Regions from separate parts of the Homo sapiens genome. Here region 2 is linked to region 1. A link means that fine-mapping ties the variant in region 1 to the expression of a gene that starts in the linked region. Tissue or cell type: whole blood. Region 1 holds a variant in brackets; the other region holds the start of a gene. All regions are shown on one strand. Distances are from middle to middle.

Region 1 (2,500 bases):
GAGGTGAAATTCCCTCACTCTCTGGGTGCTCATTAGTGTGTTAGAAATGTTGCTGATAAATCACATCGTGACGCTCCCCATAACTGCTGGTAGAAGCAGTGTCTCTGTAAAAATTTACTGTGACTCAAAATCTCCAGGGTGGCTGCTCCGGGGTCTCATTGAGCTTACGTTAAAGTGAAGGAGGAGTCCGTTGACTTAGCCAGTCCCAGCGTCTCCCAGCTCAGTCATATGATTGAGCTTACATTAAAGTGAAGGAGGAGTCTGTTGACTTAGCCAGTCCCGGCGTCTCCCTGCTCAGTCATATGATTGAGCTTACATTAAAGCGAAGGAGGAGTCCGTTGACTTAGCCAGTCCCGGCGTCTCCCAGCTCAGTCATATGATTGAGCTTACGTTAAAGTGAAGGAGGAGTCGGTTGACTTAGCCAGTCCCAGCATCTCCCAGCATCAGCCTCACATTCTCTCAGAGCCCTTGAGTTTCATTGCTAAGCCCAGGTTGAGTGCGCTGGGAATTGGATGCCCCCCCTCACATCTGTAATCATTCAGCCTGGGATCTAGGAAGTGGTTTTCTGTTTTCATCCATGGTGCCTTCTCATCCTGCTAAAATCCCGCTTAACAGAGGTGGGCTTGTGAGGAGACCCTTCCCTGGTCAAGGGCAGCAGCCACCACCGCCCTGATGGCCCAGAGAAGCCCTTGGCAGTTACCCAGCACATTGCTTGGTTTTTTCCCCACAGGACGTGTGTCAGGTCCTCATACTCCCCCCATCGCCACCTGTAGACTAGTATAGAGAGCCAGTTCAGGGGCACAGCCAAAGGTTTTTTTTTTTTTTTTTGATACAGGGTCCCACTCTGTTACCCAGGCTGGAGTGCAGTGGTGCAACCACAGCTCACTGCAGCCCCCATCTCCTGGGCTTAGGTGATTCTCCCACCTCAGCCTCCTGAATAGCTGGGATTACAGGCGCTC[G/A]CCACCCGGCCTAGCTCATTTTTCTATTTTTTGTAGAGATGAGATTTTGCCATGTTGCCCAGGCTGGTCTCAAACTCCTGGGCTCAAGCAGTCCACCTGCCTGGGCCTCTCAGAGTGCTGGGATTATAGGCATGAGCTGCCATGCCCAGTCCGGAGCATGTTCTAATGTGAAGCAACTTAGGTTACAAAGCGCTGTGTGCACAGCTGCCATTGGTCATGAGTTCAGTTTCATGTTGCTTGTCTGGCTCTGGTTTCCAGCACTGAGGAATTCCTTCCAAATAGCCCCTTGTTTACTCTCCTTCCTGATCACAAGCCACCTCCAGATCCGATCTCCGGACTCCAGTTTCCTCTCCCTCAGCTTCCTTTCTACCCCACCCCTGCAAAACCATAGATGTTTCCTTTTACCTCGTTTGCTGTCTTAAGCAATAGCAGCCTTTCCTGTTGAGACATCAAAATCCACAGCCTGGTTGAAACTGCAGTTGAACCACAAGCAACTTCCCTCATCCACTGAGCTGATCCTCCTCCCTTCAATCAAGGAGATAATGAGACAAATCTCATAATAGTGGTTGGGAAGATAAAATGAGAAGTCACATATTAACTTCCTGGTAAAGTGCTGATACCAAGCTGACATTCAAAAAGTGGTAGGTGGCTGGGCGCGGTGGCTCACGCCTGTCATCCCAGCGCTTTGTGGGGCCGAGGCAAGAGGATCACTTGAGGCCAGGAGTTCGAGACCAGCCTGGCCAACATGGTGAAACCCTATCTCTACTAAAAATACAAAAATTAGCTGGGTATGCTGGTGCGTGCCTGTAGTCCCAGCTACTCAGGAGGCTGAGGCACCAGAATTGCTTGAACCCAGGAGGCAGAGGTTGCAGTGAGCCAAGATGGTGCCACTGTACTCCAGCCTGGGTGACAGAGCGAGACTCTGTCTCAAAAAAAAAAAAAAGTTTATGATTTACTCAATGTGCATTCACTTGAGCATCTCCTATGTCTCAGACCCAGAGTTAAATGTTTTGGCCTGATAAACATGGCCCCCATCTTCGTTTGCCTTAATAGTCAGGTGAAGCAAAATAGACATGTAAGCAAATGAGCATAATGAACTAGGTTAGATGTGAGGGTGGAGGCCTGCAGACTCCATGTAGAGTATGGCGAAGGCAGCAGAAGAAAGGCTTTCTAGAGACGCCGTTGAACAGGATCTGAGAGGTGCGTGTGTACTGACCCACAAGCCCCTTCTAGGAAAGGCAGTCCAGGCGAGGGAGCAGTGTAGGCATTAAATAGCCCCCAGAATCCTGGGATCTGCAAGTGGCTCAGTTGGGTTGAAGCATAGGGAGGCCAGGGCTTAGCAGGATGAGGCTGGAGACAGAGAATGAAGAATCAAGGAAGCCTGGCCCAGTGGCTCACGCTTGTAATCCCAGCACTTCCGGAGCCCAAGGGAGGAGGACTGCTTGAAGCCAGGAGTTTGAGCCCAGCCTGGGCAGCATAACGAAATCCTGCCTCTACAAAAAAATTAAAAAGTAGCCAGGTGCGGTGCCTGTAGCCCTTAC
Region 2 (2,500 bases), 180 kb before region 1:
CATCGCGCTGTTAATGTTTAATCCTCTCCACATCGACGCGGGGTAGTAATTTGTTCCAAGTCACACAACTTATCAATGGTGGACTATTCAGGACTTAGATCCCGGATATTCAACCTCAGTAAACGTCTCCCCAGCTCCAGGGCGCTGCGTCATCTGGCTTTAAAAAAACGTTTCTGGCCGGGCGCAGTAGCTCACGCCTGTCATCCCAGCACTTTGGGAGGCCGAGGCGGGCGGATCACGAGGTCAAGAGTTCGAGACCAGCCTGGCCAACATGGTGAAACCTCGTCTCCACTAAAAATACAAAAATTAGCTGGGCGTGGTGGCGGGCGCCTGTAATCCCAGCTACTCGGGAGGCTGAGACAGGAGAATCGCTTGAACCCAGCAGGCGGGGTTGCAGTGAGCCGAGATCGCGCCGTTGCACTCCAGCCTGGGCAACAAGTAAGACTCCGTCTCAAAAAAAAAAAAAAAAAAAAAAAAGACGTTTCTCCCCATAAGGAGGCTGCAGTCACCTCGAAAAGCTTCTGCGCAGAGCCCGGCGCACGGGGAATTTCTATCGAGTGGGCACTGTCCCGTCCTACGAATGTCCTTGGCGACATCGCCACTCGCCAGCTGGGATCACGTCGCCCCCGTGGCCGGGGACACCCGCTGCCACTGACCGAGGGGGCCCCGGGAGCTGAGAGGTCGCCGCTGCGCTGCCCGCGGAGGCTGTGGGCTGCGGTTGGCGACGCCGCAGGGCTGACTTTCATCCGGGCGTCCTGCTGGAGGCCAGACCCTACCCCAACCTCGGGGTCCTCAGTGCGGGGCGCGCCTTGGGGAGGGAAGAGGCCCCGCCCATCCTAAGGACGCGCTGAGGCCACGCGGGGCCGCCGGGATACTGCGTTGCCCGGGAGACACCTGACGTGACAGGAACGCCGCCAGTCTCAGTCCGCCGTGATCCCACAGTTCCCCGGTCCCGGAAGTGCCCTGGCCTGCCGGAAGTGCCGGAGCGGCTGACAGAGCGGCTGACGGAGCCGGGCTCACCAGGTCGCTGCCGCGAGGGAGTTGCTGTGCTGGGGCCTGGGTGGCGGCTGGAGGCCTGAGTTGGGCTCGCGGCGGGGGTCGGCAGGGGGCCGGGTGGCGGAATGATGGAGGAGGAGGAACTGGAGTTCGTGGAGGAGCTGGAAGCCGTGCTGCAGCTCACGCCCGAGGTGCAGCTGGCCATCGAGCAGGTAAGCGTTCCGCCCCTCAGGAGGGGAAACGGGAGTGCGGGAGGGGAGACGGCAGCTCCGGGCGCTGGGGAGGCCGCGGCGGGTGGACGGAGGGCCGGGGGCTCGCGGCAGAAGGGAAAGTGGAGGTGGGGAGGTGGTGCGGGTGAGAAGCGGTTTCTGAATCAGAAGGAAAGGAAAGAGAACCCTTTCTAGGCTTTGATTGTCTTTGGCGAGGGCTGGGGGTTCTGGTGGTTTTGGGGAAAGGAATTGTGCGCTTAGAGAGGACGACGCTAGGAGAATGCAGGCCTTGGGTGCCATCCTCAGATTCTGGGGACTGTGGGGGCTTCATGCATTTACCAGACTCGTGCCAACGCCCCGGTTTTGCAAGCTGGCACCTCGTGAGTGGCTTGGAACTGGGGGAAGGGAATGACTTTAATTTCTGAAGCGGACGGCAGAGAAGAGAGAAAGTGTTGAAAAATGACATCGTTACCATTCTTAAAAGGTTGAGAATTCCTACCGTTGAATAGTTTGGGTGAGGTTGGAGAATACTCCCAAGGGGCCTCTTTTCCCTTCAGGAACTTTTTTTTTTTTTTTTTTTTGAGACGGATTCTCGCTCTGTCGCCCGGGCTGGAGTGCAACGGCACGATCTCGGCTCACTGCGACCTCCGCCTCCCGAGTTCAAGCGATTCTCCTGTCTCAGCCTCCTGAGTAGCTGTGATTACAGGCGCACGCCACCACACCCGGCTAATTTTTTTTTTTTTTTGGGGTAAAGACGGGGGTTTCACCGTTTTGGCCAGGATGGTCTCGAACTCCTGAGCTCAAGTAACCCGCCCGCCTTGGCCTCCCAAAGTGCTGGGATTACAGGCGTGAGCCACCACGCGCGGCCCTGCCTGCAGGAACTCTTGCCTTTGCAAGTTTATTGAGTTTTTAAGGCTAATGATATTAGAAATAGTGATTTTTTTCTTTTCTTTTTTTCTTTTTTTTTGTTTTCTGAGACGGAGTCTCGCTCTTTCGCCCAGGTTGGAGTGTAGGGGTGCCATCTCGGCTCACTGCAACCTCCGCTTCCAGGTTCAAGTGATTCTCCTGCCTCAGCCTCCTGAGTAGCTGGGACTACAGGCAACCGCTACCATGCCTAGCTAATTTTTGTATTTTTAGTAGAGACCGGGTTTCACCATGTTGGCCAGGCTGGTCTTGAACTCCTGACCTCAGGCTATCCGCCCGCCTCGGCCTCCCAAAGTGCTGGGATTACAGGTGTGAGCCACTGCACCCGGTCAGAAATAGTGATTTCTAATACTGCAGGGTATTGCTCCTGA

The links. PIP is the estimated chance that this variant, and not a neighbour inherited with it, causes the effect.
Region 2: VPS53 starts here. The variant in region 1 is fine-mapped to the expression of VPS53 in whole blood (TOPMed, PIP 0.97).

Annotation. Positions count from the first base shown.
Region 1 is chr17:533,246-535,745 of GRCh38, reverse strand. All of the region lies in intron 18 of VPS53 (VPS53 subunit of GARP complex), which reads left to right. All of the region lies in intron 1 of VPS53-AS1 (VPS53 antisense RNA 1), which reads right to left. Among named protein-coding and RNA genes, the nearest start is that of VPS53-AS1, 12 kb to the right of the region's middle. The variant G/A (reference allele first, on the strand shown) is at 960.
Region 2 is chr17:713,331-715,830 of GRCh38, reverse strand. It overlaps VPS53 (VPS53 subunit of GARP complex), which reads left to right and starts at 992. Exons shown (of 22, transcript NM_001128159.3): 1 at 992-1,208. The coding sequence starts at 1,122. RefSeq lists an enhancer at 451-520.